4 separate regions of the Homo sapiens genome follow, and regions 1, 2 and 3 are each reported to be linked to region 4. Evidence: microRNA targets listed by miRTarBase, many of them from high-throughput screens and not tested one by one. Region 4 holds a microRNA gene; each other region holds the end of a gene's coding sequence.

Region 1 (7,116 bases), not on the chromosome of region 4:
TTGAGTTAATTGTCTGAGGTGATAGGTTTCGTGGGTGTAAAAGGAAATTCATCCGAGTTCTTCAATAAGCAATACAGATGGAGCTAAGCCACAGGTAATTTGTAGGCTTTTGGCATTTTAAATGGCATGACTTGTTAATATTTAGATCACAGATTTGTATAAAATAAAGATATTAGTGGCCTCGGATATTGATCAGATTGTTACCTGTGTCTGTAGGAAAGGTGTTAGAGATGAAGCTGATTCAAGGTCAGCAGATTTTACAGTTTCAAAACATAATTTGGCTGGGCATGGTCGCTCATGCCTGTTATCCCAGCACATTGGGAGGTCGAGGCGGGCAGATTACCTGAGGTCAGGAGTTCAAGACCAGCCTGCCCAACATGGCGAAACCCCATCTCTACTAAAAAAATTAGCCGGGTGTGGTGGTGGGCGCCTGTAATCCCAGCTACTCAGGAGGTTGAGGCACGAAAATTGCTTGAACCCAGGAGGTGGAGGTTGCAGTGAGCCGAGTTGGTGCCACTGCAGTCTAGCCTGGGTGACAGAGCGACAATTCATCTCAAAATACATAAATAATTTAATGGTAAAGCTTAACTGAGAATATACGATGGAAGAAAAAGGCCAATGAAAATAGTGAAAACATTTACATTCTTAAATATGTTATAGAGAATTACAATTTCACTGAGGTTTTGGGAACTTCAAAGTAAATCTGTGTTTTTCTTCATAATCTTTGACTTAACATTTAACTGTATGACACTAGTGTTTGATTCCCCAATTTCTCAGCTGTACCAACTACAATGAATTCCTTAGATGGCTGCGTCTGCTGCTTTCTGCTCCCATATTCTGTTACACTACAAGGCCTCCAAATCAATCTGTTGGCAAGTCTGATAGAGTATAAAGATTCTTGACTTTGTGGTTTATGGCTCCAGCTTCACAGTTCTATTGACTGCCTAAAATTGAAAGCAGAAATTTGTAATGTGAATTTCTCTGGGAAGAGGATTTATTGCTTTCATCAAATTCTCAAGGACATCTGTGATTCCCCCAAAAGGTTAAAAATCCCTGGTTGAGACAAAAAAGAATACTGAATCAGTTGTCAGGAGACCTCATTTCTACAACTATAGTTCTACTACAGTTTTTTAATTTATAAGTTTTCACATCTATTCTCACTGTAGTCTTTAAGAAGGCAGAAATCATCTCCATTTTACAGATGAGAATATACCCAGAGCTAGAGAAACAGCCAGTACCAAAATCTAGCTTTCCTGGATTCTAATTCATTTTCTTTTCTGCCTCTTCAAAGACAGTGGACCAAATGGAAGGTATTCTGGCATTTTGAAAATAACCGGTTAGTTGAAACACCTATCCTGGTGCTTTTCTTTAATTTGGCTGTGACGTAATAAGAAATACATATTTGGTCTCAGCCCCCAGTACCTGAAACAGAGCTCCTAAAACCCTTGACAGTTCCTGAGTGATAGGAGTGTCTTACATAGAGCTTCTAAACCCCTTGGGATTTCCTGGGTGATAGGAGTGCCTTTTGTTCTAATGTTGCAACTCTTAGTGGGCTCCTGGATAGCTTTAGAACGGGGGCTATTAGTGACCAAGCCATGATTAGAGGATTAGAACTTTCAGCCCCAACCCCCCATCCTCCAGGGAGGGAAGAGGGGCTGGAGATTGAGTTAATAGTTGATCATACCTATGTGATGAAGCCTCCATAAAAATTCATAAACTACAGGGTTTGGTGAGCATCTAGGTTGGTGACACACCCACATGCCAGAAGAGTGGTACACCCCCACTCCATGGGAACAGAAGCTCCTATGTTCAGGACCCTTCTGGACCTCACCCTATGTACTTCTTCAGCTGGCCATTCATCTGTATCCTTTATAATGTCCTTTATAATAAACTGGTGGACAACAGTGTTTCCTTGAGTTCTATGAGCCATTACAGCAAATTATCAAACTTGAGGTTGCGGGAACCCCCAATTTGTACCCAAGTCTAACAGAAGTGTGGGTACACTGGGCACCCAATACTTGTGATGTGTCTGAAGTTGGGGGCAGTCTTGTCAGACCCAACCCTGGGTAGTGTCAGAATTGAATTAAATTGCAGGACACCCAGTCAGTGTCTGCAGAGAATTGGAGAATTACTTGGTGTGGAAACCCCACACATTTGCTTTCTGAAGTGTTGTGAGTAGTGGAACAGTTTTTCTTTATTGGCATATCTTTTTATGGTTTCCTGGAGCCCTCATTATCATCTCTGAATTATTTGTTTTGTTTTTAAACCAAAGTTTCAAAGACAAGTGGGAGTACTGAGTCTTTATCGATTAGTTTAAACCTTTTATGAGGCCCACTGATGTGTTTTCCAGCAGGTAGACATTGTAAAACAACTTTTTATTACTAAAGCTTGGGTTTGTTTCACTGAAATTAGTAGTTTGGTGCAGTTGAAAAGCATTGCCCTGAAATCCAGATGATGTGGATCTAGTTTTGACTTTGCGTAATCTCAGGCAGATTATTTTACTTCTCTGCACTCAGGGATTCTCCTCTAGGGGCTGGGTGGCAATATATAAGAGTGAACCAGCTTTTTAAAAGAACATTTACCCCTTCCTGTCTCCCCCACCAATAATTTAATTGTACATCATCTCCCACCTCCAGCTTCATCATTGTTAGGAGTGGCCCACTGTATGTGTTATAACTCAGGTGTGCTGGGGTTGAAAAAGTTTGAATACTATTTATTTCAGAGCACTCTTCTAGCTCTGATCAAAGTTGATCAAAACTGAGTTGCCCAGAGTAGATTGAATGGGTGGTAAACCACCTGGTTTGATTTGAGAGGGGCTGAGAAGTTTCCTTTTTTCAGAAATATATCTCCTCTGGATTGTTTAGACTCTTCAGATTAAGGATTATCTGTGCTTGAGTCCTCTTTAAAAGGTAAATACTCCAAAGAAGACTAACTCATTTATCAACCTAATGAGATCACTGAATGATGAAAGATCATGTTCACTGGACAAGAACAGGTTACAGAACAGCTACTTTAGGTCCTGCGCAATGAGTCTTGCCCGAGGGAAGAAGAACTGAGAGGGTCACTGAGCTAATGGGAGCATGAGAATCCTGGGTGTTTGGAAAATAAGATGCCACAAGGCCAGAAATGGCACTGAAAGGAGAGATCCAAAGGTACGAATTCAGATTAATCTCATGTGCTTCCTAACCTTGCCCATGTAGGGTTTCTGCCTGGGCAACATGTACTTCATATTTTTAAATCCAGATTTTTCTATTTATTCCTGTCAAATTCATTTTGTTGGTTTCAACTCCACTTTTGAGCTATCAAGATCATTCTGAATCGTGATTCTTTCTTATAGCCTAGTGGCCATTCCCCCTAGGAGCAAGTCATCCACAAATTTATTAAGTGTACTTTGTGTGTTTTGATCTAAGTAACTGTTTCTTCATCTTGGATTCAGGGAGTCTGTAACTCACCTGAAACTATATGTGACACTTTATGTGTATAAGCATCTTTCAGTGAAGATGAGTTTAGAGTTTTCAGCAGATTCTCAAGGTGTTCCATGACCTCAGAAAAAGGTTACAAGCCACTGATCCAACTATTCATCAGTATTTTGAACAGAACAGTGCTAATAAGGACAGAGCTCTATAAGACTACCAGTAGTGCTTTCTTTCCTGGACTGCACTGATCCATCAAAAATTTTGGGGTGTAATTGTTGACTATTACATGTCAGTCTCTTGCGATTTGCCTCTATAATAAAAATGGAAAGGAAAAATGAATTCCAGCTACTTGGGCATTCTGGTAATTGAGATGTTTACACTGTTGTTTACTTTTTAATCTCTAAATATTAGGTCATTCTTAAGACCTTCATTATTTTGCTTCTTGTGTCCATCAGACACCATATACCATACTATCATATTTAGTATGAATGAAATTATAAATGCATCAGAAATCCCTGACATTTTCTGAAAATGGACGCATCGAAGAAAATGCAGAAATAAACGCTTGCTATCTCTTCTCTCCATGGCTCTAGATAAGTGTAATGTTAATTTCCATTTTAACTCTCCTTAAAACCTACAGAGACTCTACCTCAATCTGTGTATGGTTATGATTTATATAGAAAGGAGTTTGCAGTTTAAGAAAATATTTTACATGAAAATCTGAAAGTGATAAATGAGAAACTCACTACTTTGTTTAAAAAGGATTCACCTTAGAAGGAAGTGAGACACAAAAAGTACATACTGTATCATCCCATATGTATGAGGGCCAAGAAAAGGCAAAGTTAACCTCTAGTGATGGAAAACAATGAGTGATTTCCTAGGTCCAGGGCAATGGTGGGATCGCACAAAGGGGCATGAAGAAACATTTTGGGCTGATGGAAATGTTTTCTCTCTAGATGGGTGTGGTGGTTTCATGGGTATGTGCTCTGTCAAAACTCATCAAATTGTACACTTTAAATGTCTGGTTTATTATACATAAATGCTATGTCAGAAAAAGTTGTTTATAAAAGGACTAGCCTTAGGAGTCACTAAAATGAGACATTATGAGTATTATTTATTGAGCCTTAAAGTAAGATTTAAATATGATTAATTCCACAAGTGAAAAGGTAAGTCTACCTGTAAGTTTCTTCAAGGTGAGATGTGGGTGAAATATGATCATGAGAAAGCTTTTCAACAGGGGAAGAAGAAGTGATATCAGTGCATTTTAGTAATATTAGCATTCATATAAGATTGGTATCGCTTTATTAATGTGGAATGTACAGGCAGTAAAACAGGTTATTTAATTAGTTGAAATTATCTAAAATAGATCTTAAGAGTTCACTTAGAACACTTTTCTGGACTGCCTTTCAAAGTAGATAACATCAGACACAGTGATAACATAATAACTCATTCAAAACTAAATTGTACATCACCTATGATATCAACATTTTGTATTCACTGAAGGAAATTATATTTGAAAGTGTTTGCCTGTACATTATTTGACAAAGTTGTGGGGATTTTTTGTTTTTTGTTTGTTTGTTTTCTGTTTTTGTTTTTGTTTTTCAGATGGAATCTCACTCTGTCACCCAGGTTGGAGTGCAGTGGCACAATCTCGGCTCACTGCAACCTCCACCTCCTGGGTTCAAGCGATTCTCCTGCCTCAGCCTCCCAAGTAGCTGGGATTACAGGCATGCACTACCACGCCCAGCTAATTTTTGTATTTTTAGTAGAGAAGGGGTTTCGCCATGTTGGCCAGGCTGGTCTCGAACTCCTGACCTCAGGTGATCCACCTGCCTCGGCCTCCCAAAGTGCTAGGGTTACAGGCAAGAAATTGTGTTATTTTTTAAATTTGCCATGCTCAGATATTGGATACCAGGGTGATTTCTTGGGAAATCTAATATGAGGAATGAAGCATTAATTATAAGACCTGATTTTAAATGCTACGTACCAATTAATGTATACCCTTTACATATTCTCCTCTATTGTATTTGGAGAAAATTTTCCAATCTATGAGATAATGCTGATGAATTATTTTCTTAGTGGTCAATATAAAAATGAATGAGGAACTATTCCTAGAAATAATATTGAATCTAATTAATGCCACCTTGTCATATGTGCATGTGGAACATAAGAGTAGCTAAAAAGAGGCCGGGCGCAGTGGCTCATGCCTGTAATCCCAGCATTTTGGGAGGCCAAGGTGGGCGGATCATGAGGTCAGGAGATGGAGACCATCCTGGCTAACAACGTGAAACCCCATCTCTACTAAAAATACAAAAAATTAGCCGGGCGTGGTGGCACGTGCCTGTAGTCCCAGCTACTCAGGAGGCTCAGGCAGGAGAATCGCTTGAACCCAGGGAGCGGAGGTTGCAGTGAGCCGAGATCGCACCACTACGATCACAGCCTGCGCGACGGAGCAAGACTCTGTCTAAAATAAAAAAAAAGAGTAGTTAAAAAGAGAGAAATAATATTTTCTGAAATAACAACACAGGTACTGTTGCAAAACTCAACTAAGTTAGAAATCACTTGCCCTGTCATTTGTTATGCTTACGTGTTAGTAAAATTGTTAGTATTCTATATTGGTAATACAGGAACCCTTGCTGATTTAGCTGTTATCTTGGCGTGTTTATTCTGGATTCATAGTAGGAATGAGCACCTTGTTAGAAGAAGGTTGGTCAAAATGGAAGGAGGAGGTGGAGGTTGGTTAGGTTATTTGAATTCCAAATGGCAGTAATGGGTTCCTTAATGATTAATGCTGTACTTAGGCCACCAGCCTATGCCTTAACCACTCCCTTTTCATCTTCACTTAAGGGCTCAACTACAACCCCAGGCTCTGACTCTGGCTCTGGCTCTGGCTCTGGCTCCAATTCCGACTGCGTTTCTGGCTCCAGCTCCAGCTCGATGTCAAGGTCAGGCACTGCCATAGGCTCTGATCCTGGGGCAGGCTCTGGGGCAGGCTCCTGAGTAGGCTTTGGCTCATAGTCTGGTTCTTGGATGGTATCAGGGCCAGTCTCATGAATGGAAGATGGTAGAGTTACTTCTAGTTGGGTAGCGTCTTCTCTTGGCATTGCTTCGCTTTCTCCCCTTGGGTTTATCTTTGTCATTGGCCTGCAAGAAAGAAGGCCCAGAAAAGAACAAGTTAGGGAGATGCTAACTTTGAAATTTCATGTGAAACCATATGTTCTGTAGCTTCAATGACCATAGGTCCCAGACTTCAGGAAATCTGTTATTTCTGATATTCTGACTCATTGTCAGGCCATAGGTCATTTTGGATTCAGAAAGGTTAGGTCTCAACAATATCATGAAAGTTTAAGAAAGAGCAGTGTTTCAAGGTGGGAAAATAATGTCAGAATGAAAGAGTCTAAGAATCTAATAAGGTCTTTAAGGTCCAAATTCATAGCTCTGATGTATCGCTATTTCTCACTCCATCTAGTACAATACTTGGCACCTGGTTGATACCCAATAGATAGTTGTAGAAGCAAGGAGATGAAAAAAAATGAATGAGTGAGATACACACTAGGAAAGAAATAGAGTGATTAAGAGCATGAGCTGTGGGCTGGGCCACATTCTAACTTCTGTGTTCCCTGGGCACTGTCCTTGTGGGTCTCTTGTTCCATAAAAAAATTTAAAATTATATTTCATGACTATGTTGGTATTAAGACAA
Region 2 (7,116 bases), not on the chromosome of region 4:
CCTGGATGTTTTGTTCTCTTTGGTTTGCTAAAATAAATTCTAGTTCTTATACTGCTGCCTGCCAGCCAGGTCCCAGGTGTTTTCAGAGGTTGCTGCTGGGACAGGCCATAGCATCTCGGCTGCTGCTCTTCTCTCTTAGGCCAAGTCCCTTAGGAGATGCCCTCGGCAGCCCATTGTGGGGCAGTAGAAGTCAAAGCCATGTAAAAGTGCCTGTGTCTTTTCTTTCTGGTCAGTTACCATTCCTGCTCTCACACCAGCTGGTCTTGTGCCTGATGGACATTTGTAATCAGTCTCACTGACCTGGCACTCATTATGCACTTCCTGAACCAACAGAACTGTATTACCGAGGAGCACACAGGGCGCTTCTTTAGTCAGCGGATGTGCTTGGTGCTGGGGAGAAACAAGCCAGGGGTGGCTCCTACTTCCTCCTCCCCAACCCCAGGCCTACCTGGAAACTGCAGTGTGGTGTCATGGTGCGCAGCCTGTGCTAGGATGGCCTCTCACCCTGCACCGATTTTGGGCCAGCCAGGCCACCTCATGGCCTCTTTCAGGTGTTGAAACTGAGCCCTATCAGTCTCCAGAAACCTCCCCCAGGGCTGCCCACTGGCTCCCATGACATGTCCTAGGAGCTCTGTCTGAATCAAGCCTTTTTTTTTTTTTTTTTTTTTTGAGATGGAGTTTTGCTTTTGTCACTCAGGCTGGAGCATGATCTCAGCTCACTACAACCTCTGCCTCCCAGGTTCAAGCAATTCTGCCTCAGCCTCCCAAGTAGCTGGGATTATAGGCACCCGCCACCATGCCCAGCTAATTTTTGTATTTTCAGTAGAGATGGGGGTTTCGCCATGTTGGCCAGGCTGGTCTTAAACTCCTGACCTCAGGTGATCCACCTGCCTTGGCCTCCCAGAATGCTGGCTGAATCAAGTCTTGATGTTGAGTATCCACCAGGGTGAGGGTGGTGGGGAAAGGAGAAGCCTATTGCCCTGGCCCCAGTGACCCCAAGCCAGCTCCACCTCTGGCACCCTGGGTGGGGCTTCTCCCCGCTTGATCAGCTTGGGCCTGCAGCTTTCCCAGCAGGCACTCTCACTCCTCAATGTCGGTGTCATTACTGGTGGTCAGTCATGGCCGTCAGGACAGGCAGCATTGAGGCCAGGATAAGGCAGCTACTCAGGGCTGCCATGAAGCCCAGGAGAGAAGAGGATGTGTGTGAATTGCTCAACACTGTGGGTTCTGGGGGTGACAGGCAGGCTGGCCCGAGGCCCCGGGAGGGAGAACTGGTCCCACAACCCTGTGAAACAAGGGAGGACCTTATTGCTGTGCTTGCCTGATTACCCTGGGAAGGAGGGACCAAGGGACCAGCCAGAGGCCAGTGGGAGAGGAACCATCAGGGTTTCCCCGGAAGTTATCCCAGTGGGTCCATCTGTGACCCTTGTACTCTGAGGTCACCTAAGCCTCAGAGGTGAGGCACCTGCCCCTGCTTGTGCCAATTGCTGCACAGAGAAGGAGAGGAGGTTCTTGGCCCAGGGATTCCAGACCCATGGCCAGCCTCGTGGCCATGCGATCTCAGCACTAGGCTGCCTGCCACCCTGGTCACAGGAGCCCCATCCCGGCCTCTGAGGAAGGGAACGCAAGACCAGACATACAAGGGAGAAGCTAAAGCAGAACTGAAGGGATGGAAGGCTGCTAAAAGTTATGTTTTCAAAGAACATTTAATCACAGAAACTTTCAAAATATTTTGTACATTGAATAGATCCGATCACCAAGCAGTGCATAGAGTAGGATCCTAACTTTGTAAAATATCCATATGTCATATATAAAGAAAGACAAATGTATATGTGCCAAGTAAGAAGACTGGAAGGAATTATGAACAGTGGTTATCTCTGTGATTGATTATGGGTGTTTGTATTCTGGTTTTTGTTATTTTCAAAATTTTCCCCAGCACACAGATAACATTTTCTTACGTGAGAAAAAATTTTTTTTAAAAAGCAGGGGGTGGAGAGCGGCAACTGTTTGCTCAAGACTTTTCAGTAAGGAAAGGAACCTGGGGTAGAAAGCTCCCCCTTCAGCTGCCCATGAGGGCACAGGTGGGCCCCACACTCACTACGGGGCCAGGGCAGGGCCGCACACCTGCCACTTCCTCAGCAGAGACCCTAGCGCGTGGGTCACTGCTGGCCCAGACTCCTTCCACGAGCAGGCGAGTGTGCAGGGCCACACCTCATCCAAGAGATGATCACGTTTAGGTTTTTGATGAAAAGCATAGCTCTCAGGTAAATACAGCAGCACCTCTAAGCATATTCTGGGAGGAGTGGGTTTTATGAGGAAGGCACACAAGGAACGCCCAAATTTGCAAGTCCCTTTAAAATGAGCCTGCTCAGAATTGCTGTTTATTCCACAGGTCTGCGCAGGCATGGCACTAAGTGTCCCATGGCACATTTGGCCCTCATGGAGGCCTCAAAAGGGCAGGACCAGCACCCTCTTCTACGGAGGAAGGAACGGGCACAGCAGGTACATGATGTGGTCAAATTAACAAGAGGCAGAGGCCGGGTAAGTGGCTCACGCCTGTAATCCTAGCACTTTGGGAGGCTGAGGCAGGAGGATTGCTTGAGCTCAGGAGTTCAAGACTGGCCTGGGCAAAGTTTAAGACCGGCCTGGGCAACATAGTGAGACCTGGTTTCTATAAAAAATTTAAAAATTAGCTGGGTATGGTGGCGTGTGCCTGTCATCCCAGCAACTCGGGCTGAAGTGGGAGGATTGCTTGAGCCCAGCAGGTTGAGGCTGCAGTGAGCCATGACACTGCCACTGCACTCCAGCCTGGGCGACAAAGCAAGACCATGTATGTCTTTAAAAAAAAAAAAAAAAAGGCAGCCAGGACCTGATGCCAGGTCGACTTGGCTCCAAAACCTGCCCTCTCCTTTTCACAGCCTCCTTTCCTGTGAAATAATAGGGAATTTCTCTAAAGCGCATCGCCCGGTCCCTATGTAAAGACAAAGAAACAGGACTTTGCACGCTCACCTGGCATTAGGGCCAGCACTGTGCTGCAGTTGTGAAGATGGCCACTGGGTTGGGGGTTGTTCTGCACCAAATGGCCCCAGACTCCCTGTCAGTGGCTACTTGTTGCAGCCAGTGGGCCTGAGCTGACCACCCTTATTTATGCTCCTGATGTGCAGCCTTGAATGCATCCTGGGCTGTGGGAGGCAACCAGGCCAGAAGATGACCTTGATAGCTGAGCACTGACCCTTCATCAGCTGTGTGTCCTTACGACCTCCTCCCTTTCTGAGGCCTTCTGTATGTGATGTCATTTGGTGGGTGGCTAAAGTTGCTAGAAGTCTGGCCACCAGGAAGGCCACGACTGTCACACTTTGTGCTTTGCTGCATAAAAAGGGAGTCTCATCATGATCCTCAGGCCTGCTGTGCACACCTGATGGGCATAGCAGCGTTTGCGTCTTGAAAACATTCATTTCACAAACTCCTAGCACACCCAAACCATGCCAGGTTACACACTGGGCACTGAAGAGACCACACATTTGTCAGTTTCCGAAACTCTACTGCCCAGTATTGGAAGAAGAGAGCTGTTAAATCAGGTCCTGCAATGGCAGATAGGCCCCAAGTCCTATGGCAGCAGGGGGCTCAGGCCATGTCTCAAGCTCTGGGAGAAGGTCATGGGGGCAGATGGGTTCTCTGGGTTGGAAGAGCCTTTGGAATTAAAGAGTCCTATGTCCTCATGTTGCAGATGAGAAACTGAAGCGTGAATAAGAAAGGGGACTTGTCCTGACACCAAGTCAGTGGCTGAGTTGGAACCAGAATACCTGTCTCCTAACACTCAGGCCATTGCCTCTTCCAATCTCTGCTAGCTGAGCTTGAAGCCTTAGACTAGTGGGGAACTCACCATCTTCCAGACAGCCTGGGCCCACCCTTTATGTACATGAGAGGGTCTCTTCCTCTGCGCTTGCACATGGAGGCCCTCCCTGGTCCAGGTGGAGGGGCTGCTGTCCCGCAGTGTGGCCCCAGCCTCCACCCCTGCTGCTGGACCAGCTCTCCCCAGGCCCCTCCCTGGGGGTGCAGCACGTGAACTCCAGAGAGGCGCATCCTTGGGCCCATGGGGAGGTGGAACCACTCTGCCAGGCTGTGCCTGTGGATGGGGCGGGCCCAGGATCTGCTTTTAATGACACGGTTTGGGCAGCTGGACTCTGTCTGTTCCAGCAGGTAAATTACAGGCTTAGCAAGTCAGAAATCAAATAAACACTCCAACTCCCAGTGGCTGTTCCAAGGAGAACAGCGGTTTCCGGGAACAGTGGAGGCCGAGACAAACCTCCCCACCCAACTCAGCCTAATTACTGCCTGTCACTCCCTGGGACAGGGACCTTTTCTTTGACTCACAGACCCAAGACACAGGACAGCGCTGGTGGGCACCCAGGGTGACGCCAATTTTGGTGGCCAGCTTGTTCATAACTCCTAGACACAAGCAAACACTGGCAGTCCCCACCCTTGCCCCATGCCTGGCCGGAGACTGCCAGTCACCCTGCTTTGGATGGAATGGATTGCTCTGCAGTGGGGCAGGAGGGGGAACTGAGGTCTTATTGACAATGCCTGGTGGTGGCTGTCTGCAGTTCTGTGCTGAGGCCTGGAGGCCCTGTCCTGGTTCAGTGGGAAAGGTACGTAGGTTGATTACTGACATGAGCCATGGGCAAGGGGAGCAGGCTGCGGGGGCATTTGCTCTGTGCCAGCCTACACTACATGTTGGAGCTGCTGGTCTTGCCTCTGTCTCAGTGCTGAGCCCCAAATGGGTCAGCATGGTAGAGATGGTGGAGGGAACTGGAAGCCCCCAGGATTCTTTGCTCCTGTGGGAGTCATACCTCTTTCCCAGGCAGGAGAAGGGGCAGGCCCAGGGCAAGGGAATACACATGACATAAAATATCCCCAGTGGCCAGGCACGGTGGCTCATGCCTGTCATCCCAACACTTTGGGAGGCCGGGCGGGTGGATCACCTGAGGTCAGGAGTTCAAGACCAGCCTGGCCGATATGGTGAAACCCCGTCTCTACTAAAAATACAAGAATGAGCTGGGCGTGGTGGTGGGCCCCTGTAATCCCAGCTACTCAGGAGGCTGAGGCACGAGAATTGCTTGAACCTGGGAGGCAGAGGTTGCAGTGAGCCAGGATTGCACCACTGCACTCCAGCCTGGGTGACAGAGTGAGACTCTATCTGGAAAAAAAAAAAAAAAATCCCCAGTGGCTTCGTGGGGATGTCCAGCTTATTCTTTTTCTAATATGCTAACTGCACCCTGGACCAAATGAGAAGAATCCCAGAACACACTGTGCTGAGAACATAAGCGTGTCCAATTTTGCCCAGAAATGGCCAGTGTTGTACCTGGGAAGAGGCAGAGCCCTTCTCCTCACACCTAAACCCTCTGGTGAATGGAGAAAAGCTCGGGTCAGCCAACCTCAGACCATCCGGGGCCAGCCACAGTCTGACAGGTCCTAAGATAGGACTTCTGTGCTGACTCCAGACAGTGCAGTCAGCACAGGCTCTGAGGCTGCTGTGTGCCTTAGGCCACCAAAGTGTCGGGCAGAGTGACAGCCACAAACCCCAGGGGAGGGGCACAGAGGTACCGAGAAAGGACCAGAAGCCTGACAGGAAGTAGGCACCGAGAGTGAGGGCCCCTGACACTCCTGCTTGAGCTGTGACAGCATTTAAGGGTTTTCTGCCTCTGCAGGGCCCGATCCAGATGAGAAGGGTGGCTGCAGTAGGGCTGGGCGGGCTGACTCAGTGGCAGCCGCAGGCCTTGACCACCATGTTGCGGTGCTTGCGCAGGATGACGTTGTTGCTGCTGTCATAGTAGAGCACAGAGGTGGCGCTCAGCTTGGTGGGTGCACAGCACGCCTTGGGGACTGCGTTTGGCTTCATCAGGTGCACCTGGCCAGGAAGGGAGCACAGGCAGGGGCATGAGGCCAGTGGCCTCCTCTGAGGACCCACCTAGCCCCGCCCCAGCTCCACCTGCTCCCTGCCCTGGCCATCTCCAAGCCACATGGGAGCAGCACAATAATAAGAATTATTAACAGGAATAAGAGCAGCCCTGAGAGCTCTGGGAGCGGGAGCTGTGGTGGCCCACAGTGCCCAGGGAGGGATACATGGCAGCCCCAGGGTGTGGGGCAGGTGGGCAGGGCACTAATGAGGGGCCTCGAGTCCCAGGCCAAGGGCTCAGACTTCCTCCTGGGGATAATGGGAAGGAGAACCTCATGGCCAGGTTTGTGCCCTTAGTGAGGTCCCCAAGGGGGAACCTGGAAGGACCACTGTCTTCTTATAGCCCTTCAGACCCCCCCAGAGGCTCTGCCTCCCCACACCCTGGCCTCCCTCCCCAGGCTCTGGGAGGCCAGGCCTCGCCCCCTCTCCTGTGCTGCTCCTTCTCCCAGAGGACTGCATCCGCCCTCAGCACTTCAAGGCCCTGCATGTGCCCGCACCTCTCCACTCCCCTGGCTCAGCTTGGACCTCTCTTCTGAACTCCAGACTTGCGGATCCTGCTCCCCTTCCCACTTCTGCACTTGGGGGTCTAATGAGGCCTCAGTGGAACATAGAATTCCTCCCGCCCTGACATCATAGCTCCCGCCTGGGAGGCCTCCTGGATGACTCCTTTCGCCTCCTCCCTTCCCTGAGAGCAGCCCCTGGCTCAACCTCCACCTCCGTGCTGCCTCGGACCACCTGCCCAGTCGAGCTGCCATCACCTGCCAGGTGACCACAGCAGCCCTCACTCATCCCCTGCTCCTCTGCCTTCCACTCCCGCGACCATCAGCCTCCCCAAGCCAGAAAGGTCCTTCTGGAGGGTGACGCAGACCAGGACACTGCTTTGCTGAAGACCTCTGACAGCCTCTGGGGTTGCTTGGAATAAAATCCACCCTCCTTCCCAGGGAACCCCAGGCCCTACGGGAGCTGGCCTGGCTCACCCCGGCATCACCTCCCTCCACTCTCCTCCCCTTCACTGCACCCAGCCCCTCTCCTCCCTGCTGGCCCTGAACTTAGGGCCAGCCTGCTCCTGTCTTAGGGCCTTGCACTTGCTCCTTCTGGAACATTCCTCCTCCAGCTGCTGACGTGCCCCTCCTTGTGTGGAGAGGCTGGGCCCAGTCTCA
Region 3 (7,116 bases), not on the chromosome of region 4:
TGGAACTGGGCGCCAGAGCCCTGGGGTCTCTGCGGACGCTGCTCCTACAGGGCAATGCCCTGCGGGACCTGCCCCCATACACCTTTGCCAATCTGGCCAGCCTGCAGCGGCTCAACCTGCAGGGGAACCGAGTCAGCCCCTGTGGGGGGCCAGATGAGCCTGGCCCCTCCGGCTGTGTGGCCTTCTCCGGCATCACCTCCCTCCGCAGCCTGAGCCTGGTGGATAATGAGATAGAGCTGCTCAGGGCAGGGGCCTTCCTCCACACCCCACTGACTGAGCTGGACCTTTCTTCCAATCCTGGGCTGGAGGTGGCCACGGGGGCCTTGGGAGGCCTGGAGGCCTCCTTGGAGGTCCTGGCACTGCAGGGCAACGGGCTGATGGTCCTGCAGGTGGACCTGCCCTGCTTCATCTGCCTCAAGCGGCTCAATCTTGCCGAGAACCGCCTGAGCCACCTTCCCGCCTGGACACAGGCTGTGTCACTGGAGGTGCTGGACCTGCGAAACAACAGCTTCAGCCTCCTGCCAGGCAGTGCCATGGGTGGCCTGGAGACCAGCCTCCGGCGCCTCTACCTGCAGGGGAATCCACTCAGCTGCTGCGGCAATGGCTGGCTGGCAGCCCAGCTGCACCAGGGCCGTGTGGACGTGGACGCCACCCAGGACCTGATCTGCCGCTTCAGCTCCCAGGAGGAGGTGTCCCTGAGCCACGTGCGTCCCGAGGACTGTGAGAAGGGGGGACTGAAGAACATCAACCTCATCATCATCCTCACCTTCATACTGGTCTCTGCCATCCTCCTCACCACGCTGGCCGCCTGCTGCTGCGTCCGCCGGCAGAAGTTTAACCAACAGTATAAAGCCTAAAGAAGCCGGGAGACACTCTAGGTCAGTGGGGGAGCCTGAGGTACAGAGAAGAGTGAGGACTGACTCAAGGTCACACAGTGATCCGGGATCCCAGAACTCTGGTCTCCAAATTACAGCCCAGGACACCTTTCTCTGCCGCCTGCTGCATCAGTGGGTGACCCCCTTCCCGGGCTGCACTTTGGGTCCAGCTGTGGAAGCCAGAAGTTGGGCGGTTTCAGGGACAGCCGAGAATAATGTTGACCTGTCAGATCAACAAATCTTCACTGAGCATGTATTTTGTGCCACACCCTGCTCTGGGCACTGGGAATGCTGGGAAATGAGATACATTCCCGCCCTCAAGAATCTCCCAGTCTGGTAGGAGAGAGTGCTGCAGAGCCACGTGGCCGCCACGCAGTGTGCTTAGGGCCTGAGGTGTGAAAGCCCAGGGCTCCAGAGCTCGGCAGGCCCCGCTGGTTTGGTGCGGTGAGTCCTGCCCCGGCTGTGCCAGGGTGAGGGAGGGCCAAGCCCAGGAGGATTTGTCTGAGACATTTCCAAGCAGACTGTTTGTCACGTCTTCTGAGAATGACTTTCAGTCTCTCTGAAAATGAAAAGCTTAGGACCAGAAGAGAGAATTGGAGCTGTACGAGTGTGTCTCGGATCTGGTGTTGTTAGGTGGGCCACGGCGGCTCCAGCAGGGTCTGGTTAAGGGGTCCAGCCCAGCACTGGACCATTCCGTCTCCTGCTCTGGACTTGCCCTCTCCCTTCCTGGCACTCTCATGTTGCATACCCTGACCCCAGTGCTGCTCTAAGCACCGTCCCTGCCCAGCCCCACTTCTCCATCGCAGCCCCACCTTGGCTGCTGAGCCAGGAGCTAAAACCTTAGATATCTGGTTCTGTTTTGCACCCAGCTTGGCAGATGTGGATTTGAATCCAAGCCTTGTGTCTGCCCCTATGTGACAGCTCTATATTTTATCCCCGTTTTATAAAAGAGGAAACTGAAGTTCTGAAAATCTCCTTCCAGGGCCCCAGCTAACTAATGCCATAGGTGAGATTCAAACCTTCATCCTTCTGTCTCCAGGGCCTGATCTTTACCACTGCAGGGGCTGCAGGCCGTTAAGTGGACAGGAAGTGGCCCCACATAGCCCGAGCAGGGTCTGGAAGCATCCTGTGCTGTGCACACCTGCTCTCTCCTCTCTCCCAGGCAGGCAGCTGCAGGCGCTCTCCTCCTTCTCTGCCTGTTTCCCTCCTCCCTTCCTTTCCACCCTGGTGTGGGTTCTCCTGTTCTCTCTGTGCTCTTGCATTCTCTCATTCCCTTTTCCTCTATTGAGCAGAGCCTGGAGTTTGAGACTATGGAATCCAACCTCCCCATTGCACAGATGGGGAAACTGAGGCTTAGGAAGAGAATGAAACTTGTGGAGAGCTTATACAGAGCCTCTGGGGGAAAAAAGAGCCCTTATTTGTGGGGTGAGATTGGGGGTTGGACCAGAGTGATGTCCTCTCTCAGCTATCACATCACAAGATAATGCTGGCTCCAAACTTCCTTTCTGTGCCTCATCATGCAAGGATCTTTTTTCCCTCTTACAAAAACAGGTAAAAAGCCTCACCCAGATGACCCCCATCCCTCATACCATGGAGTCATGAGCTGTCTGGGAAGAATGGACGTGCTGGGACCAACTCAAGACCTTGTTTTGCTGTCTTCATCATCTTACCTGTGCTTGGCCCACAGTCTGGCTCATGATGTGGGCTCAGTAATGTGCGAGAAAGTGAAAATGCCACTCTCTCCACCCCATTTTACAGAGGAGAACACCAAGGCCCAGAGGAAGTTAAGGGAGAGTCAATGGGCAGAGCCAGGGCTAGGCCCTGGTGGTGTGTGGAGCACCCAGGCAGACCCAGTCCTGGTTGGGATCACACCCACGGGTGCTACTGCACGTAACACTCCTCCTTAGGCCTGGAGGCCAAGGTGTGGGTCCCCACGCCTGATCTTTGAAAACACTACACAGGGCTGCTGTCACTTCCCAGGGCCCAGGCCTCAGCCCAGGCCTCGGGACCAACTCTTTGTATAACCTACCTGAATGTATTAAAAACTAATTTTGGAGAAGCAGTGTGGCTGCCAGCTTCCTCTTTGCAATCCGCTTCATTGCGTCCACTAGAACCCTGCCGCTCAATCCCATTACGGTCGTTCAATCATCATGGCAAATCCCTGGGGACACTGAGACTCTGGGCCAGCACCACCCTGGACCTTGAAGCCGCAGCCACTAGCATGGCCCCTGCTACACCTCTTGCCCCACACTCAACAGGCGACTGTGCTCCCCACCCCAGGGCTGAGAGGCTGAGGGCTTCCGTTTGTTTCCTTCCTGCTACAGCTACAGGCCCCCTCCCCTTCTCTGTGCTCAGCCCTCTGTGCCCTATCTCAGAGGCTGCACTGCCCCTCCTCCTTGGGGTCCCCAGCCCCGTCCTCTCTCCCTTACCCCGTCATGCTCTCTTCTGCCTCCAGCCTCTCCCTGTTTACGTCTTCCTCTCAGACTTCAGCTGGACTCAAGTCTTGTCCGTCTTAAAAATAGTGAGAAGCCCCTCAGCCACTTTCCCCTTCGTCCTCCCACTCTTCACAGGCCAGGTTCTTGGTAAAGTCACTTCCCTTCCCGCCCCTCCCGTTCTCAACCCGCCTGGAGCTGCCTTCAGCCCCTCCCAGCTCCATGCTGCCCTTGCTAACAGCGTCAAGGGTATCCTTTGCCAAACTCAGCACGCTTTTCAGACCTCCTCTCCCTAGGCCCTGTGCAGCAGGCCCCCCACCCATACCCCTGCTGGGCATGCTCTCCCCACAGCTGTGATCCCACACAGGAAGCCATCTCCTCCCTCCCAGGCCACTCCTTTTCAGGCCACTCTTTGCTCATCTTCCTTGAGCCAGCTTTAAGTGGTGATGGCCAGGGCTCCATCCTAAGCCCTTTTCCCTTGGGAACACTATGGCCTCATTGCTGTAAACACCCCATTGCTCTGATGGCCCACATCTCTGTCTCCAGCCCCACCTCTCCTGAAAGTCCAATTCTGCTACCCAGAGGCCTTCCCAGGTAGAGGGCTAAAGGTCCCCAGGGACTGGAGAATTCAGTGATCAGCCAGGCTGCAGATCAAGGTTGAACTTGGAAGAAAACCACACCTGGTTCCTGGCTTGGAGTTGGAGGGTGAGTGTCGGGTGTGGGACAGAAGCAGCCTCACCTGGGTAGGGGAGCACTGAGAGGCGTGACAGGCCAGGGCAGAGCATGCAGAGCAGGGGGTGCTTATTCCTCTGGCCCTCACACCTTCCATTTCGCCCTGTCAGCAGCCTGGCACTGCGCCTTTGCCCTTCCCTTCCCTGACTGCCTCTCCCCCAAGCTCCTGCTCAGTGATGCTTCTCCTGCCCACCCCGAGTCAGCCTGGACCCCTCCCCTTGGCCCTGCAGCCCCTGGGCCCAGCGTTGGCAGCTCTGCCTCCTGGAGATTCTTCCGTTTCTCTGGTCCGTGCCCTCTCACCTCCCCATTCCTGCTCCTGGCTCCCAGTCTGCAAAGGGAAATTCTAAACACCTATTTCATGGGGTAGGGCTGGGGGAGAAAGGAGAGAGCCCCACCCCCTGGCACACGATAGGTGCTCCGTGAAGGCCTAAGGGGAAAGCAGGAGCTTGGGCTGAGCTCGCCTAGGGTCTGCGGGCCTCTGCTCCAGCAGGGAGCCCAGCAGGCCCCTGACCCCTTTTCCTGACAAACAGGGAGTTTGCTCACCTGGCCAAGACCCCCGGTGAGGCAGAAATTCCTGTTTTCAGCCAAACGTGGACACAGCAGCCAACTAGGTCATCAGAACATCCAGCTTCCCGAGCTCTTAGCTTGCAGGGAGAGGGGAGGCCCTGCCACTCCCAGGTCACAGTCAGCCTGAGGTGCAGGGCCCAACTCCTGGGGTTCCATGCGCTGGCGTGGCACTCCACCAGGAACGGGTCCCGGGACGCGCCAGCAACTCACCCTCTCAGACCCACAGGCTGGCCACATCCTCCAGGATCTGGGACCCACCGTCTGTGTTCTGTGCCCCTGTCCTTCAGGCAGTTCACTGAGCCCATGAGGCCCATCTCTCTCCCGCCACCTCTCACAACATGCTCAGAGATGGCCATTGTTGAGCACTTCCGGGCGGGCCCATGCTGAGCACTGGATGTGGATTGTCATGTTTAATTCTGACAGCCGTTGAAGAGATTTCTACTGTTACCATCCTCATTTTAGAGAACTGAGCTCCAGCGATGAGACTTGAACCCAGGCTGTCCCACTCTGGAGCCAGCAGTCTTAACCATTAGGCAGCACTGCCTCCTGCACCTCTCCCGCCTCCTCTGCCGGAACCAGCTCACCCCCCCACCCACCTGCACAATCTCCTTCACCACCCTCGCCTGTATCACCTCCATCACCTTCTCTGGGGAGACTGTCTGGATTTCTCTCCTCCAGCTGCCCACAGGTCTGGGCTGCCCTCAGCATTGGGTGTCTGCCTGACCCACCCACCAGGCCAGGAGGTCCTGGGGGGAGGTCCTACCTGGAGTCCTATCTGTCCCCAGGGCCTGTGAGCCAACACAGACTAAAGCCAGCTCAGAAAAGGTTTTCTGAGTGAATGGCCCCTGTCTTCCAGGACTCAGAAGCTTGTGGAGTTGAGACAAGCCCTCAGAGAGTGTGGTGAGGAGGCTTTTTGAACAGACCTAGGGGACACAGAGAGGACAGGGGAATGCAGACTGTGGGCTGCCCACGGCAGCAGGGGCCAGTGGGGAGGCAAAGAATCCTCTCTGACCACCCTCCATTCCCTGCAGCTTCCTCAGGCCTCTAGGACCCCGTCTTATCTTTGTCCTCCCCCCCTCCTTTGCTCCCCCTCGTCTCCCATTCTTCTCTTCTTGGTCATCTCCCCCCACCCCCACCCCTATCGCACTGGAAACAGTTGGGCTGTGGTGGCTGAGAATGGGGAGGGCGGGGTGGGGGAGAGGGAGGCCCGAGCTGTTTATAGGAACTGGAGCAGCTCCATCCATCAGCTCTGTTTGGAACTGGAGACCAAGCATAATAAATACCTTGGCTCCTCCCCAGCTGCGCTTTCCGTGAACTTGGCCGTCCGAACTCCAGCTCTCCCTGGCCTCCTGGTTCCCAGGATCCAGTCTCACTCCACCCCACCCTACCTCACCTCCCACCAAGCTGCCCTGGAAAGAGTCTGGCCTCTGGGACCAGAAACACGGGCCTGAGTCTAGGTTCTGCTGCTTCCTCACTGTGGGACCAAGGCCAAGACCGTCACTTAGCTGCACCTCTATTTCTGCATCTGTAAAATGGGGTCATAATCATCGCCCACACCCCCAAACTCAGCACTGCTCATTCGTTCGGCCAGAGTGGCTTGGGCATCTGCTCTGTGCTGGGCCCTAGGCCCTGCGGGATACAGGGAACAGTTGGACAGAGCCTCTGTCTATGGGGTGGAGAGAGGGGCCACACCACAACCCAAGCCAGGAAGTGGTCAGCGCCTTGAGGGAGGTCCAGATTTTGTGCTCGGGAAGTTTGTTTGCAGCAGGGAGCAGCCCTTCCAGCTGGAGAAGTGAGGCAAGACTTCGAGGACATCTGGGCTGGCTCTGCAAGGAAGGGTAGGATTTCAACACGTGGAGATGGGAAGAGGCTTTCCAGGCAGAACAAATGGCAGGACCCAAGGCCTGGCAGCAGGAAGAGCCAGGGCATGTCTGGGAGTAGAGGGGTCTGCCTGGCCCAGCCTCCATCGCATCACTTTCTCCTCTCTCCTCATTCAGCACCTTCTGCTCAGGACTTCCAGCCTTCTGAAATCTTCCCTCCTTCCCTGGAGAGCTTCCAACTCACCCAGCTAGGCCCTCCCAAGTTGTGGATGCATTCCCAGAATTCTGCCATCATGTCCCCACTCCCTCCTTCTCTGAAAAAGCCACCCTAGAAAGCGGAAGATTCAGATCGGGAAAAGGCATGGACCAATAGCATGTTTCTGGAGTGAATAAGGGAAAAAATGAATAAAGAAATGCAGAAAAGATTGAGTCAATGAAGGAGAGAGTGAGTGAGCAAATGACTGAAAGCAGCCAGCATTGCCGGGACCCTGCCGCATCTCATACTGGGTGCTGCACAGGCAGCGTTCCTCCTCTTGTGGCGCTTGGGAAATAGACATTAATCACACACAAACAAAAACGATGGCAAATTGTAATGAGGGCTATGAAAGGGAGTGAAGGGCAAGATCACTGAGGGGTGGGACTCAGAAGAATCCTTTCTGAGGACATGACCTGTCAGCTAAGACGGAAGGA
Region 4 (7,116 bases):
CTGTGCACCTCCACACTCCCCCTGTATCCCCCAGCCCCTAAGGACAGACAGACTCATGGAAGAAGAGACACAGACAGACACACTGTCAGGAGGAGGCACAGAGAGGGACGGGGCAGCAGCAGGGCCAGATCTAGACAGACAGGCAAAGAGGGTCAGAAGGACAGACAAATGACGAAAGAAATGGAGCCCCTCAGATTTCTGCTCGATGAAGAGAGGACAGATAGCCACAGAGATGGACCCACAGACAGGCCAAGAGAGGACAGGTGGGCATTGGGGATGCATACCTCGCCTCACCTCCTGGCCAGGCTGGAGGACATGGTGAGAGACCCCCACCTTGCAGACCCCAGCCCTCCACAGATCCCTTACCTTCAGGAAAGCCTCCACTTCCTCATCCTCTGGCCTCTGGCAGGCGGGTCCAGAGCTGGATGCTTGCTGGCCCAGGCTGGGCAGACAAGCCTCTGCTCCTTCAGGGTCAGTTCCCCCCACGGGCCTGGAGCTCCCGTCTCCTTTGGGCTTGGAACTCTCCTCAGACCTCAGTTCTTGAAGCTGCAGAGCTGCCGGAGGAGTATCAGCGATGCTTGGGGCTGCACTGCTAGGTTCACCCCCTCGACCTGGAGTCCAGCTATGCCAGGTGGGCAGTGCCCATGGCTCCATGGCTCCAGGGTCCCCAGGCCGTGGGAGGGTTGTCAGTTGCTCCATGGTACTGCCAAGGGGCCCCAGAACCCGGGCCGGGGGACATCACCCAGCCAGGTGGGGGGACTGGCGAGGGTCATGCCAGGCCAGCCCCTCTCCCCTCTGAGCTCTTGCTTCACCGACGCTCCATCCAAGGTTGGCTGAGCTCTTCCCCACCCACAAAGGAGGCTGCAGAAGGCGCCAGGGCTGCTGGAGCTGGAGCCAGGGGTATGTGAGCTATGTTTGCTGGTAGCTGTGTGTGTGCGCGAGTATGTGGAGGAGCGAGGGTGTCCCTGTGGGGGTAGGGAGGATGTGCAGAGGCCACCGACAGCTGCGCCTGGGTGAGGGTGCGTGTGTGTGTCTCCAGGTCTGTCCGTGCAGGTCAATGCTGTCTCATGTGTTGGGAAGATGGGTGCCCCCACTTCTGTGTGTTGAGGGGGGTGGTGCTGTGTGTCACTGTCTGCCCATTTCAGAGTTGCCAGTTGTTTGTGTGTGTGTGTGTGGGTGTCTGTATTGCAGGGCTGTGGCAGTATGTGATGCTGTCCCTGGTTGTATCTGAGTGTGTCAGTGTCGTGCAGCTGTGTGCATCGGTGTCGTTGTGTGTCTGTCAGTGTCTGTGGGTCTGGCCGTCTGTCGCAACCCCTCAGCCCGGCCAGAGGCTTCAGGAGCTGCTGGGGGTGATCCCCAGTGGTCCGCTGTGGTCCTTTATCTCCGGCTCTGCTCTCTGCTGCTGCTCTTTCGCTTGCTGGGTGGCTGGGCTGGTCCTAAGGAGGCCTGGGTCGATGGGCTGCTTGCCTCATAGTCTCAGCCCCTGCTGGCCTCTGCTCTGGGGACTGCAGGGGTCCCTTACAGTCCAGGAGCCTCGAGATGGTGGGCTCCGAGGAGGGCTGAGCCTCAGAATTGGGTGGGGGGGTGAGCCGGGAAGAGCCAGCCCTCCCCTCCTCCTCCTCCTCCTCCCCTCCCACCCACCAATAGGAAGTCGGCTGCTGGTTTCCATGGTGATGGCGCTGGACTGGTGGGCTGAACCGGCTGACAGGGTCGGGGACAGAAGGAAGAGCAGGTTTCTCACGGCATGTCAGCCCAGGGCTCCCACATGTGGCCTCCCACCCTCATCTTCACACATTCTCACACCTTCCGGAGTACAGAGGCGAGTGGGGTGCAGATGGTCCTCCCTACATCGGGTGAGACTGATAGAGACAGAACGGGGGAGGGTATGACAGAGATCCAGCCACAGAGAAGGGCAGAACTAGAAAAGATGGGACTTGAGATGAAACAAAGAGAGAGACAGAAACCAAGAGAAAGAAACCGGGAAGACAAGCAAAGAGACAGGTAGAAATAGACGGAGAATTCCTTCTGCTTCCTCCTGGCAGATTGCACTTGGGGGGCAACCTGGCTGTCCCAGGCCACCAGGGAAGCCCACATGGCCTGTTGGGTTGGCTTTGTCCCGAATTGCCTGGAAGTTCATCTTCTGTCTAGCCTTAGATCTTGTTGCTAAATAATTTGGGGGACAAGGACGTGAGAATCCCCTCAGCCAGGAGTCAGTCTATATGCAGTGGCAGGGGTCTAGACAGAGTCCCCAGAGCCAGGGGTGTTGGGAGAAGCCCCGAGAGGCAGCCCCTCTCCACTCTGAACCCGGGACTCATTAGGCAAGCCAGTTTCAGCCAAGGTCGGGGGCCCTCGTGTGGCACCCCCACAGAATAGCAGCGGTGATACTGAACCCTAGAGCCCCTGACTGTGGGCTCCACCCAGGCAAGAGCCAATGGAACTGGAGGTAGGGGGTGCATGGGGAGGAGTGGACATCTTCACTTCCCTAAAGCAGTGTGTAGGTCAACACGCACGCCACTGCATGATGTGTTGCTGTTTAGGTCAGAGTATATATGCATGCCATTATGCGCATGCGTGTGTATAGTATGCATCTATAGAATAGACATTATCTATTTCTGTATATGTGAAGGGGCCATTGTGTGTATATATGTGTGTGCTATTATGTGTCTATGAGTCACATAATAAAACGTAACAAAAACACATTGGGTGTATCTGTATGTATGTTTCTGTGTCATTGCATCTATGTTTGTTTGCCACTGTGTCTATGTGTGTGCTGTTATGTGCATGGGAGGCTATCATTGCATGAGTTTATAAATTACAACACATCATGATATATATAGATATGGATGCTACTATATGGCACAATGTAGTAATTGATTACACAATATATGACATGCTCATATCGTCATGTAAATATGCATAATGACATGGTTTGATTTATATATATATATCACCATGTATCTATGTATTCTATATTTATCATGATATATGAACATGTCTCTATCTATGTATGTGTATGGAGCCACCGTGTTTATTATGCAAATGTCACTGTATGTGTGTGCTCTTCTATGTGTAAGACACGCCCTATGTTTCTATCATTGCATGTGTGTACTACTGAATATGTATGTGCCCTGGGTGTGTGTAATCCCTGTGTGTGTCATGCCAGTCATGTCACATGTGTCTGTGTGTGTGTTACTGGCACACTGAATGGGGCCTCTGTGTGTAAATGCATTTGCATCTCAGTGTGTGCTTTGTATATGAGTGTCTGTGCCCTTGTCTAAGATGCTGTGTATGTGCCACAGTGGATTTTGCCCAATTTTTATATGACCTAGGACCCCCTAGACTTTCTTAGATTAAAACTGGATGTAGGCAGCTTTCAGTTTGGGTATGTAGGGGGGCAGGATAGGGCCAGAGCTAGGGTAGAAGGTGAGAGGATGCCTTACATCCCTGCCCCTTTCTGCAGATGGCCCAGGCCCTTCTCTCCTCCGGCTGTGGCCTGGCCAGGCCCAGAGCCCTCTTCTGATCTCATAGGCAGGGCCAAACCCGTATCTTCTGGAGGAGCGACAGAGGTTCTCCCTCCCAGCCCTTCTGTGCGCCCATACTGTCCATGTGCCTGCCGCCCGCATTCAGCTCCCCACCCCAGCAACAGAGTCTCAGACAAAAGAGAAGCACAGTCCAGTCTTTATTAGCATTGGGTCCCTGGTCCCACCACCCATTCCCCTCCACGTACCATCCCTTCCCACCCCTTCCTCGTCCTTGACGCTGCGGCTGCATCAGGGTTCCACATGTCCAGCCCTCCCCGCCCCCAAAGACTGCAGGGCAGCAGAGGAGCTGCTGTGGCCTTTCCCCAGCTGTCCGGAACCAGGAAGGGCAGGAAAGCCATGGAGGCCTTTCAGGCATCTGGGCAGGGTAGGGAGGGGCCGTAAGGTGCTCACCTGTCACACGAGGTCCCCGAGCGCCGAGGAAGATGGTGGCGGGCAGCGGGCGGCAGCAGTGGCGTGATCTCCGAAGCCCACAGTACACTCATCCATAAAGTAGGAAACACTACACCCTCCAGTGCTGTTAGTAGTGCTTTCTACTTTATGGGTGACTGCACTGTCTGTCTGTCCGTCGGCGTGTACTCTTCAGGCTGCCCAGGCCTCCTGACTCCTGCTCCAAGAGCCCCCCAGCCCTCCTTGTGGCTTCCTAAGATCCCCCCAACCCTGCCAGGGCCCCCCGAGGGCCCGCCCTGGGCCTTGTGGGCGGTGACTCAGCATGGCGCCAGACTTGCCTCCTCTACCTCCCTCCCCCACTTCCTCTTCAGTTCCCTCTTCCCTTCCCCCTAAAGGCTCCACCCCATCCCCCCAGTTTCAGAGACACTCAGGTAGAGACTAGGGCCTCTGGAGGCCTCACCTTCAGTTCTGTGAACCCCTGGCTGGCCGCTTCCAGCCACGCTAGCCACCCTCCAGCGTCCAAATGAGGCAGCCACAGCTCCCCTGCCAAGGTCTTGGTCTCCAGTCCACCCCAACCGTGAGGTCCTGACTGCCCAGAGCCTCAGTCCCCACCCTTCAGCCTCCCCACCAGCCCAAGATCCTGACCCCCCAGGGCCTAAGTCCCCAGCCTCCCCAACAGCCCAGGGTCCTGACCCCCCAGGGCCTCAGGCCCTGGCCTCCCCACCAGCCCAAGGTCTTGAACACACCAGGGCCTCAATTCCCAGCCTCCCCACCAGCTCAAGGTCCTGACTCCCCCAGAGCCTCAGTCCCAGCCTCCATAGCAGCCCAAGGTCCTGACCCCCCAGGGCCTCAGTCCCCAGCCACTCCACCAGCCCCAAAGTCCTGACTCCCCAGAGCCTTGATTCTCGGCCTCCCCACCAGCCCAAAGTCCTGACTCCCTCACTGCCCTGCTGTTCCCCTGGCAGGAGCCCAAGGCTATCCCAACAAAAATGGTGGCCATGTTGGGCGGAGGAAGAGGCTGGCGCCCCTTGAGACACTGGTCCCACTTCTCAGCCTCTGCGTACCCTCTGCCATCCCCGCCTTACTCTCCAGCCCTCCTCCTTGGACACCTCTTTCCCCGCCTGGGGTCCCGGAGCCATTTTACCTTCCTTCACTAGAGAGGGTTTCAAGGCGCTTTGCCCTGAGCTTCCCGCATGGGGCTTGCACCCAAGCTCCTCGACACCCCCAACGCGCCTCCACCCAGACCAGCAGCCCAAGCCCCTAGAGGCCCCGAGCTGAGGAGCCCCAGTTGGGGCAGCAGTGAAGGTCCGGATCCTTACCTGAGGCTGCAGGGCGGAGGAGAGCTCGCCCTGTGCTCCAGGCTCCGAAGTGGGGTTCCCTTCAGGGAGGGCAGGGCTTATAACCCCGAGGCCACGTGGGCCAGATCTCAGGGCGCCCAACGGTCTCAGAGCGCGCCCCGCCCCCGCCCGCAGGGGATGAGCGCCCTCCCTCCCTCCCTCCCTGGGGAGGACAGACTGACAGGAAACAGAAGGGGGTGGGCCCGCGGGAGGGCTGGGGACCCTCTCTCATGCCCTGGGCAGGTGGCTTCCGGCCCCAGCTGCCCTTCCCCCCGTGGCACCAGCTCCAAGGGATGGCTCAAGAGCCTGGGACTGACTCAGGGCATTGAGGGTGACCCCAGAAGACCAGGGCTCCTCGACAGGGCCCTCGGTGAGTGCCCAAAACGGGGAGTCCAGAATTCCAGCACAAGAAAAGGACCTTCTCTCTGAGCCCCACCGCTGCTGACCTCAGCCCAGAAAACTCCCTTCCCTTCCCAACACTCAGGCCAGGCCCTGGCTCCTCTGCGTGTGCTCCCGAGGGCCATGGAGGTGCTGATGCATGAAGGGCGTCCATGGAGACTGTTGTCCTCAGCACCCCACAAAGCCACCCCTCCTGCAGCCTCAGCCTGCAGGGCACAGTGCGGGGGACACTCTCAGGCCCGGTGGACTGATGGCACTAGGCTAGGTGTTCACGCTCTCTTTGGGACCTGTGGGGACAAGAGGGCAGGGCAGAGCTGGGTGAGGATCAGGTCCTAAGGTGGGGCACAGGTGCTATGCGGAGAGAAGGGGGCTTGGAGGAGTGGCGGGAAAGAGGCTCGAGGGAAGGTTCTGGCGGCCACCGGATGTGGGCATGGGGCCCACCCACCTGCATGCCACCCCCGATTTCCCCATGGGGAAGGCAGGAAGCTGCCCAGCCCAGGGCCCCTGGCTGGGGGAGGGGAGTAGGGTGTGGGGGTGGGCAGGGGACAGCGTCGGCTGAGCCCAGCCCATACCATCTTCCCCCAGCGTTCTCCAAGCCTCTCCATGGGCTTGGCTCTGGAAGCAAGAGGAATGGGTTTGGGGAGGTAGGAGCGGTAGAGAGAAAACCACCCAGTGACTCCTTCCCAGAAGGCCATGGACCTCTTCTCTGGGTCCTCCGTTTAGGCCCACACAGACCTTAGGGAGCTGTCAGATTCAGGGCCTAGAAGAGGACTGGCATGGGGGCAGTGGGGAGGGAGATGGCCCCACATCCTTCCCTCCAGGAAGGGGGTCCTTCAACCTGGAAAGTTGCCCCATTCCCAGGTCCCTAAAATGGGACAGAGAAAGGGGGAATGGGGCCTTTCACCCCCTTGAGTCTAAAGAGAAAGTGGTGAGGAGGGTTGCCTTGCAGGGCCAGCTGGCCAGAAATGGGGCGATACTCCTTTAAGAGACCACCGCTGCCTCTGACCTGGGTGGAGGGGAAGTGGCTGCCCCAGGCGATAAGAGGATAAGAATATCAAAGTTGTGCAGTAACCTGGGTTCCTGGACCCCCATTCTTCAGGGCTCCTCCCCTGAGAGCATCTTACCTCCTACTCCTGCTTATGATGCCTCCATAGCCCTCACTTCAGAGGCGTCCTGTCCCCACAAAAGAGAGTCACAGAATGGGACCCAGGAGCCCGGCTTCTGGGCCCAGCTATGCCATAGACCCCTCAGCATGTGACCTGTGGCGAGTCAGAGCTGAGGTTCCAAGGGACACACATGGCTCCAACAGTCTCCAATCTAGCCCTTCTCCTGTCCTGAGCAGGGTGAGGTGTCCCTGCTGCCTGTTGTCTTGTGACAACAGAGGCTGATTTTCTCTGTACAACCTCAATGCCTAAAGACCACCAATAGTTTTTATTTTTATTTATCTATTT

Evidence for each region. The annotated mature microRNA hsa-miR-142-3p reads UGUAGUGUUUCCUACUUUAUGGA and lies in region 4 at 4,024-4,046, opposite strand. An mRNA with a match to its seed (bases 2 to 7 or 8) in the 3' UTR can be bound and repressed. Matches are read on the target gene's strand: a 7mer-m8 pairs with bases 2 to 8, a 7mer-A1 pairs with bases 2 to 7 and ends in A, and an 8mer does both.
Region 1: miRTarBase lists VSIG1 as a target of hsa-miR-142-3p. The part of its 3' UTR that is shown has no 7-base or 8-base seed match.
Region 2: miRTarBase lists BMP8A as a target of hsa-miR-142-3p. The part of its 3' UTR that is shown has no 7-base or 8-base seed match.
Region 3: the mRNA of LRRC32 is a reported target of hsa-miR-142-3p. Seed matches in the 3' UTR shown: 8mer at 2,826-2,833.

Annotation. Positions count from the first base shown.
Region 1 is chrX:108,076,492-108,083,607 of GRCh38, reverse strand. VSIG1 (V-set and immunoglobulin domain containing 1) reads right to left here. Exons shown (of 7, transcript NM_182607.5): 7 at 4,424-6,560. The coding sequence ends at 6,227. Among named protein-coding and RNA genes, the nearest start is that of PSMD10, 11 kb to the left of the region's middle.
Region 2 is chr1:39,524,441-39,531,556 of GRCh38, reverse strand. It overlaps BMP8A (bone morphogenetic protein 8a), which reads right to left. Exons shown (of 7, transcript NM_181809.4): 7 at 1,688-5,908. The coding sequence ends at 5,759. It also overlaps the pseudogene PPIEL. Among named protein-coding and RNA genes, the nearest start is that of BMP8A, 36 kb to the right of the region's middle.
Region 3 is chr11:76,653,345-76,660,460 of GRCh38, reverse strand. LRRC32 (leucine rich repeat containing 32) reads left to right here. Exons shown (of 3, transcript NM_001128922.2): 3 at 1-2,937. The coding sequence ends at 857. It overlaps LRRC32-AS1 (LRRC32 antisense RNA 1), which reads right to left and starts at 3,465. Exons shown (of 3, transcript NR_199061.1): 1 at 3,305-3,465; 2 at 767-853. RefSeq lists an enhancer at 6,169-6,692.
Region 4 is chr17:58,327,222-58,334,337 of GRCh38, forward strand. MIR142 (microRNA 142) reads right to left here and starts at 4,097; the gene lies at 4,011-4,097. TSPOAP1 (TSPO associated protein 1) reads right to left here and starts at 1,574. Exons shown (of 32, transcript NM_004758.4): 1 at 367-1,574. The coding sequence starts at 699. TSPOAP1-AS1 (TSPOAP1, SUPT4H1 and RNF43 antisense RNA 1) reads left to right here. Exons shown (of 5, transcript NR_038410.1): 2 at 829-900. It overlaps MIR142HG (MIR142 host genes), which reads right to left and starts at 5,299. Exons shown (of 1, transcript NR_186557.1): 1 at 3,667-5,299. RefSeq lists silencers at 1-16, 627-736, 5,307-5,616 and enhancers at 417-576, 1,447-1,516, 2,047-2,216, 2,317-2,396, 4,187-4,326 and 4 more.